Linked DNA regions of Homo sapiens: region 2 is linked to region 1. Evidence: fine-mapped expression QTL. Tissue or cell type: adrenal gland. Region 1 holds a variant in brackets; the other region holds the start of a gene. All regions are shown on one strand. Distances are between the middles of the regions.

Region 1 (4,378 bases):
CTCACTGAACTCTAAAAGGGGGGCGATTAGCCACCTCCCAGGGTTGTCAAATGGAATCATGCACATGAAAGTGCCTTGGGAACTGCAAAGTGACCCCCCACCCACAGGATCCTAAAGAGATGTTAGAGTCAGGAGAGAGCCTGGGACCCCCCTTAGCACGCTCCTCACATCACCCTGCAGATATTTATTGAGGACCCACTGCATGCCAGGCCCTCTGTCTACAGCATTTCACTGAATCCTCACAGCTGCGCTGGAAGGCAGACATCATGGTTCCCATTTTACAGATGAGAACACTGAGGCTTGGAGCCTAAAAGGGATTTACTCAAAGTCACGAGGCATGTTGGTGTGGAGCTGGGCTTAGGATGGTGTTCCCTGGAGCCTGTGGCGTGAGCCCTGTACTCCCTGAGGCCTAGGAAAGCACACAGCAGGAAGCAGTGGGCCCTAGGCTGACAGCCTCCTCAAGGGTGGCCAGAGCATTCCAGACCTGGGTCCCTGCACCCAAAGCTGGATGGAGCCAGGCCTGGAGCGCCTTGCACTGGTGGCATGGCTTGCAGATCCCATCTGGCCAGTCCTTCCCTCCTCAGAGGCAGATGATGGGGAGGCAGCCGAGGAGTGTTGAACAAATGGTCTTATAAGGCCCCCCTTCTTCCCACTCCTCCACCTCATAAATTTGGGCCTGGAATGCTCATTATTCACAGGGCTGTGGTGGAGAAAGGCAGTGGGGCTGGGTCTCCTGTGAATTAAAGATTATCCACTGGGGTGGGAGCTGATGGTGAGCTCGGCACCGTCACTGCTCTGCACTGTGGGCCGAGGTGCCAGGTGTCTGTGGAGGGCCAGGTCCCTGGGACTGGGAAGAGGCAGCAGGAGGATGACAGAAAGAGAAGTCTGGGGTCCAGGGAGCCAGACAGAGAGCACAGAGGGGAGGAAACATTTTTGGAGTTGGGCCTTGGCACTGGGGCTGGAAGAGAGAAAGTGTGTACAGGCCAGGTGACGATGGGGAAGCTGCAAGTGATTATCCTGGGGAGCCAGAAGTGTGAGGACAGAGATGCTCTGAAGGAGCCTGCCTGGGCAGGTAACGAAGCCCCGTGGTATTGAGCAGCCTGGCCACGTTGGCCAAGGGGCTGGGGATCTGGCACATTGGTTACTGGATTCCCATTTATAGATGACAACACTGAGGCTCAGAGAGGGTAAGCGGTTTGTGTAAGGTCACAGAGTAAGACAGTGACACAGCTGGAGTAGGGCTGAGCTCTGTGTAGCCTGTGCTGGGCATGGAGGGCAGGTGCAGGCGGGGCATGAGCACCTACAGGCATGGCAGTGACACTGGGGAGGAAGGCAGGGGCGGGGATTTTCACCCAGAGCACAACGTCCTTAGCCCCTGGAGTGGGTCAGCTGCTATTCTGGCAGAGTTGCTGAAGGCTGTAGGGAAAAGAAAGAGAAATCAGACTGTTACTGTGTCTATGTAGAAAGGGAAGACATAAGAGACTCCATTTGGAAAAAGACCTGTACTTTAAATAATTTCTTTGCTGAGATGTTGTTAATTTGTAGCTTTGCCCCAGCCACTTTGACCCAACCACTTTGACCCAACCTGGAGCTCACAAAAACATGTGTTGTATGAAATCAAGGTTTAAGTGATCTAGGCCTGTGCAGGACGTGCCTTGTTAACAAAATGTTTACAAGCAGTATACTTGGTAAAAGTCATCGCCATTCTCTAGTCTCAATAAACCAGGGGCACAATGCACTGCGGAAAGCTGCAGGGACCTCTGCCCTGGAAAGCTGGGTACTGTCCAAGGTTTCTCCCCATGTGATAGTCTGAAATATGGCCTCATGGGATGAGAAAGACCTGACCGTCCCCCAGCCCGACATCCGTAAAGGGTCTGTGCTGAGGTGGATTAGTAAGAGGAAAGCCTCTTGCAGTTGAGATAGAGGAAGGCCACTGTCTCCTGCCTGCCTCTGGGAACTGAATGTCTTGGTATAAAACCCGATTGTACCTTTGTTCAATTCTGAGATGAGAGAAAAACCGCCCTATGGTGGGAGGTGAGACATGTTTGCAGTAATGCTGCCTTGTTATTCTTTACTCCACTGAGATGTTTGGGTGGAGAGAAACATAAATCTGGCTTACGTGCATGTCCAGTCATAGTACCTTCCCTTGAACTTCATTATGACATAGATTCCATTGCTCACATGTTTGTTGCTGACCTTCTCCTTATTATCACCCTGCCCTCCTACTACATTCCTTTTTGCTG[AAATAATGAACAT/A]AATAATCAATAAAAACTGAGGGAACTCAGAGACCGGTGCCGGTGCAGGTCCTTGGTATGCTGATCGCCGGTCCCCTGGGCCCACTATTGTTTCTCTATACTTTGTCTCTGTGTTTTATCTCTTTCTCAGTCTCTCGTCCCACCCAACTAGAAATACCCACAGGTGTGGAGGGGCAGGCCACCCCTTAAAAGGCTGCCCGGTTTAAGTCAAGTTCTCATGGTCAGACTTTAGGTGTGTGTGTCTATGTGGTCTTCAGGCCCAGATTTCCTGATTGCCATAGAATTTCCCACTAGGCAGAGACTCTAGCCAGGGACAGCCAAGAAAGGGGAGGAGGATACCTACCTTCCACTGGAAGTCCCGAGGAGCAGTAGAGTGGGCCCGAGTCAGCACCTCCTGCAGGATGATGCCAGTGCTGAAGATGTCCCCTGTGAGGGTGCGCCGCCCAGGGCGCCCAGGCCCCGGCAGCAGCTCAGGAGCTGTCCATAGCAGCTCTGCAATCATAGGGCAGGGCCATGCCACCATTACCTGCTGACCACCCAAGCCAGGCTGGGTGCATGTATTCTCCCCAATTCACAGGTAAAGAGCCTACAGCTTGTTCAGAGAGGAGAAGCGATCAACTCAAGGTCACCAATACCAGAGGACTGGAGATCTCCCTCTCCCTGCACCTTACAAGCACCTGGTTAAACAGAGGCCCCCAAACCTACTGGCAGCCCCCTGCCTATCCCTGAGCTGACCTTCTGGGGCTGGCCAGGGTTGGGGATCCTGCTAAGTGTCCAGGGGCTCTGCATAACCATGGTCAGTGACCTTGAGCACAAAGCATCTGTCCACCACACAGTTTTGGAACTTGAGGCAGCCAGGAGGGAAATGGTGGTGGTGCAGATACCTCATGCCCTGAGATGGACATAATGGGGGTCCATTGGATCTGTAACGAATGAGAGGAAACCTGGTTCTCTCGGAATTCCCACAAGCCCCAGAAAGCCTTCCTGCCTCCCTGTACCCGTGGCCATGCAGTTTGGATATCCCTGGATTAGACAAAGCTGAAAGAGCCCAGCTGTGGGAAATCTGAGCATCTCCTGTCTCCCTGCCATCCCCACTTCCCTGCAGTGCCAGGCCCAGGGAGGGATCTCATGCAGATCAAATCCAGCAGCAGGGAGGCCTTGAAGGTCCAGTCTAGGTGCAGGACCTCTTTCCGAAGCAGGTTCCCCAGAGATCACGAAAATGCCCAGGCAGGTGGCGACGTTCTCACACCGCAGCTCCCGCATCTGTCAGGGAAATTGGCACCTTAGCAGCCCTCAGGGGCCGTTCGAGGGCTGGACCAGGTGCAATCCACATCTAGGCCACCTGCTCTTAGCACCAAGCACAAGGCTAAGCATGGAGAGGCATCAGAAATGTTGAATGAATGGATGGAAAAACAGACAGATGGATGAATGGGTGGGTGGTGAGGGATGGATGGAGGATGGATGGATGAATGTATGCATGGATAGATGGTGGTGGGTGGTAGATGGATAAATAGATGGATGGGTGGGTGGGGAGCTGGTGGGTAGGCAGGTAGATGGGTGGGTGAGTGGTTGATGGGTGGGAGGGTGGATGGATGATGGGTGAATGGGTGGGTGAGTGGGTACTTGGTGGGCTGGTGGGTAGATGGGTGGGTGGATGGATGGATGAGTGAATGGGTGGGTGGCTGGGTGGATGGATGGGTTGGTGGGCGATTGGTCAGTGGGTGGATGGGTGGTTGGTGGGTGGGTGAGTTGTTGGGTAGGTGGATGGGTGGTTGGTGGATGGGTGTTTGCATGGTTGGTGAGTGGGTGGGCAGATGGATGGGTGGATGGGTGGGTGGATGAACGGGTGGATGGGTGGGTGGATGAATGGGTGGATGGATGGATGGGTGAGTAGATGGGTGGTTGGTGGGTGGGTGGTGAATGGGTGAATGAGTCAATAGGTGGATAAATGGCAGATCACTTGAAGCCAGGAGTTCTAGATCAGCCTGGCCAACATGGTGAAACCCTGTCTCTACTAAAAATACAAAAATTAGCTGGGTGTGGTGGTGCACACCCGTAATCCCAGCTACTTGGGAGGCTGAGGTGGGAGGACCGCTTGAGCCCGGGAGCCGGAGGTTGTAGTG
Region 2 (4,378 bases), 71 kb after region 1:
GGACTCCCTGGGGGCGAAGACACTGAACAGACATGAAGAATGGAGAAGGTCCACCTCCCTTCCCTTACTTCTAGGTGACTAGGGGACTAAAACTTGGGATGTGTAAGAGGGGGTGGCCAGAACTGATGCTGGAGAGTTAAGGTGAGGTGGGGGCATATCACATAGGCCTTGAATGCCACACCAAGCAGTTTGGCTTTTGCCATTGAAAGGTTTTAAGCAGGCAAGTGTCATGATCCATTCTGCAGATCTGCAGTTTAGAAAGGGCACTCTTGCTGGAATGTGGACAGCAGACAGAAGAGGAGAGTCTAGAGGCACAGAGACTCTCAACTGGAGGCACAGTGATGAGGGGAGGTGGGTAAAGTTCATGGAGATCCACCAGCTGAAGCCCCTCAAGGCCACCTCTCCCTAAGGGGAGGTCAAGGGAAATGATGAATGTGAAAGTGCTCAGAAACTGCTGCCAGCTACCAGCCAGTGTGAAGGGTTGTTGATTACTTTTATGTTAAATGTGAGGCCTGGAGCCTCCAGCCCAGCTGGCTAGAACCTGCACACACAGTGCAGTGGGAGTTAGCTTCCCTGAGTTCCCGGGCAGTTGGGTATTTTCATCTCCAGTTCTCAGATGCTGAACTTGAGACTCGCTAAACAATTCCACATGGAGGAGAGGATGGAAATCGTTAGTCTAGGGCAAGGGGAGGGGGGCGCCATTCCTTCAAAAGAATGTCCCTATGGGAGGGGAGGAAGCAGGAGGAATATAAGCTAGACAAGCCAGGGAGTCCAGAGGTCATTCCCGGGCACCCTCCCCTCCCAAGCCTGCTGGGCTTTCCAGTCTCTACCCCAGTCCCTGACGGAAGACATTTAGCAACCACACAAAGGAGCTTCCTGTGAGCCAGACTAATGCTTTACCTAAATTACCTTGTTTATTCCTCACAATAGCCTCTTCTACAGTTGCAGACACTGAGTCTCAGAGAGGTTAGGTAACTTGCCTAAAGTTACCCAGAGCTGGTAAGTGGCAGGGCTGGAACCTGAATCCTGACCAAGCTTGGCCCTCACCCGATGCTGATTGCAGGTCTCTCTCCCATCTAGGCCAGGAGCCTTTAGAGAGGGGAGGGAATGGGAGGGTGGGAAATGGGAGGGGCCCGACTCCTCTCTATGGGTCCCAGGGGTTGTGGAGTTGAATCCCTGCAGCCCTTTTAAGCCCAACAGTGAGGAAGACACTGGATACCAAAGGGCCCATGGTGCCATCCCAAAGACTGATAAGGAGTGTGAGCTGGATGATCACAGAAGGACTCCTAGTTCTGAAAGCTGGGATTCTAATCAGGAGAGGACAATGAATGGAGAGGAGAGACGGGAGTTCTCCCTGCTTCCACACATATGAGACCAGGCTCCTAGCCTTTTCTCTGCACATTCCTAACTGGCAGGGTCCACAGGTGTCAACCCAAGTGCATCCCCAAGACCACACAATGGCTCTGAGTGCAGAAAGGACCTGCAAGACCAGTTTGTTTTCTGGGCAGCAGATGATTTTGCTGGCCTGAGGCCTGGGGCAGTGGTCTCCACTCCTACCTCACCACCTCTCTAGTGTCTTCCTTCTTCCCCAAGTAGACCGGCATGCATGCACACACAGGCCCAAGCAACTCCTTTTTTTTTTTTTTTTTTTAATGAATAAGAAAAAGTAATAAGGAAAGAAGCAGCAAGCAGACTGGGTGTGTTAACAAGTCTGGGCCACTGCAGGAGGTACATTGCCCAATTTCTGCACCCCGAGGCCCTCCAAAGTCTAGGAGAAGCTCCTGGGAGGTCCAGGGCCCAAGACCAAAGCCTCTATCAACTCTCCCACCTGTGAACTGCCCCTCTCCCAAGGTAGGCATTGTCGGGGTGTGTAGACTGGGAGCCACCCACACACCTGACTCTCCCCTCCTAGGAAATGCGTCCACCAGGTCATTTCTCCTGCAAACCCTCATTTTAAAGTGTCTTGGATGCTTTCCTGCCCTTTTTTTTTTTTTTTAACATAAAGAGGGGTGAGAGCCCAAGAGCTACAGCAGGGGGAATAGACTGAAACTGCTGCCTACTCACACGCCAGTTTCCCTTCTTAGAACTCTAACCAGAAGCCAATGGTTTCCTCCTAAAAGAAAAACTCAATCTGTTGACTTTCTCTCTCCTCTCCTGCCAGCTTTTCTGCCCGAGCCGGGCTCTCTCTTCTCTGTGGGTTCGTCTTTCAGCCAGTCTTTCTCTGCTTCAGATTCTTGGTTTCTTGCTCCCGGTAGTCCCTGAACCTCTTTCACTCTTTAAAAAAAAATGGGGAGGGGCGGTGAACAAGCAAAGAGGAAGCCCTCACCCACCCACCAAATCTCTTTCTTACTAGCAACTAATTCCCTCTCTCTTTCCACACACACAGTCATACACACACATACACATACACAGGCACGTACTCCGGCGACCTCCAGATGTTCCCGACAGTGCGGCCATCTGCTTAGATTGCTGGGGCGCGCAGGGGGAGGGGGCAGGGATCCGGGATGCAGGAAGCTGTGAGCGAGGCCAACTAGAGGGGGCGGGAGCAGCGCACTTTTGAGACGCTCCCTAGAGTGGAACCCGGGCTCGGCTCAGGCTCCGCGGGCGGGGCGCGCGCCGAGAGAGGCTGGCACTTTGGCGACACTCCCTGAGCCGCCCCGCGGCCGGCCCGAGCCGCCACCCGGCGCCCGGCAGGGGGGAGCCTGGCTGCGGGCGGGGACCGGGGGGCGGGCCGCGCCGCGCGGAGAAAAGCGCTGGCCGGAGGGCCCGCGGCCGGGCCGCCGGGGTGAGCGTGCCGAGGCGGCTGTGGCGCAGGCTTCCAGGTGAGTGCAGTTCCCCGGGCGGGGCGAGAGTCCGCGCTGCGGTTGAAGATCCCAAGTCCCCGATCCTAGCCTCGCGGCCCCTTCGGAGGGCGGGCTGGGGACGCCGGGCGCAGGGGCGGGGCTGGGTCCCGCCGAGGCCCCTCAACTTTCGTCGGACGCCTAGGGCTGGGCGGGAGTGGGGAACGCCGACCCAGGGGAGAGGTCTTGCGGGAGACAAAGGCTACGCCCAGGGGCCGTGTGGGTCTTTGTGCGGACACGTGCATCTCACGTTTGTGGGTCTTTGTGGATTTGCGGTCGGGGACGCGCCGCTGTCGGTGCCTTTGTGTGTCCGTGGCTTTGCGCGGCTGCTTTGCGCCCGTGTCCACGTTTGCGGGCCTGCGCTTGGCTGTGGGCGTCGGTGGGCGCATCGCGTGTCTCCGCGTACGTGGTCGGTGCCTGCCGACGTGTCTGGGCTGGGTGTCCGCAGAGGGTGTGCGCACCGAGAGCCCAACGCCGCCCCACCCCCCCGCTCCCCCGCCGTCCCCTCGGGCCCACGACTTGGCTCCAAACTTTTCTCCCGGTTCCTCGGGCAACAGCCCCAGTCCTCCCCACCGCTACCCGGCCGGGGGCGCAGACAGCCCTCCCCCTCCCCCTCCTGAGGTCCCAGGACAGCAAGGGGCTGCGACGGGATTGGTGGTCGGGGGATCGGCAGCGCCTGGGGACTGGCTGGGCAGGGGCTGGGCGGAGCGTGCGGACTCCCCCTCAGACCCCGGCTGGGAGGAAGAGGCGAGCGGTGGGTCCCAGGCTCCGGCCCTGGGCTGGGGAGAGGAAGGGACAGGGCGGCTGGCGTTGCCCTCCCCGCGCTTCTTGGAAAGAGTGTGATCCAGAGTTGCGTCTGTTTGGTAGGGAGACAGGCTCCGCTTTGAGACCCACTCTCCGTTTGCAGCCCGCCCCCGGGGTAGGGGGCCAACCCTCGGACCCGGTAGGGGAGAGGGGGACTGCCAGTCCAGATCTGGGCATGCCCGAGGCGCCGGCTCACAGGACCCGGAGCTGGGCTGGGGGCCGTGGGAGCCTCACATACACAGGTTTCAACTGGGACGGCCACTGGCCCCTGTGCGGCGCTGGCAAGTTGCTCAGCTTCGCGGAGTCGCGGTCACTCTGGCACGGACAGGGCGAGAACTCCCTCGCGGCTCGGGGCGTGCGGTGGGAATAACCCGCGCCTCTGGAGCCGGGCGGAGAGCAGCGCCAGCCCACACTTGGCCTGGCGAGGAGGTGACTCAAGACCTTCGATTCTTCTTTCATCTTTGTGCGCCCTGCCCTTCGGATAAGTCTAGACTTGCAGTGCCTGGGGCTGACCGGAGGTGGGGGGGGGGGGGTGCTCAGAGCTGCAGGAGCCTGCTGGGCTTTTGAGCCTAAGTCGCAAAGATAACCGTAAACACCCTCCTCCCCACTGCTCACTCCAGTCTTTAACCTAGAACTTTGTCGGATGCTGCAGACATGATGGAAGGGCACAGGCCGCTAACCTGGGAAAGAAACAACTGTGGGCATTTTCCTTTCCCTCTCCGGCCTCAGTTTCC

Which allele goes with the higher level. Positions count from the first base shown, and alleles are read on the strand shown. Sizes are in standard deviations (SD) of each study's normalised expression.
In carriers of allele A in region 1, the expression in adrenal gland of the gene that starts at base 2,480 in region 2 tends to be lower than with AAATAATGAACAT alone (moderate effect, 0.46 SD a copy in GTEx).

Evidence for each region. PIP is the estimated chance that this variant, and not a neighbour inherited with it, causes the effect. A credible set is the group of variants that fine-mapping cannot tell apart.
Region 2: TSKU-AS1 starts here. The variant in region 1 is the best candidate, but not a certain one, in a credible set for the expression of TSKU-AS1 in adrenal gland (GTEx, PIP 0.69).

The regions. Positions count from the first base shown.
Region 1 is chr11:76,709,669-76,714,046 of GRCh38, forward strand. It overlaps the pseudogene GUCY2EP. Among named protein-coding and RNA genes, the nearest start is that of LRRC32, 41 kb to the left of the region's middle. RefSeq lists an enhancer at 445-946. The variant AAATAATGAACAT/A (reference allele first, on the strand shown) is at 2,244.
Region 2 is chr11:76,780,583-76,784,960 of GRCh38, forward strand. It overlaps TSKU-AS1 (TSKU antisense RNA 1), which reads right to left and starts at 2,480. Exons shown (of 2, transcript NR_120562.1): 1 at 2,421-2,480; 2 at 1,999-2,274. It overlaps TSKU (tsukushi, small leucine rich proteoglycan), which reads left to right and starts at 2,774. Exons shown (of 2, transcript NM_015516.4): 1 at 2,774-2,822. RefSeq lists enhancers at 2,011-2,200, 2,435-3,079 and a silencer at 2,631-2,720.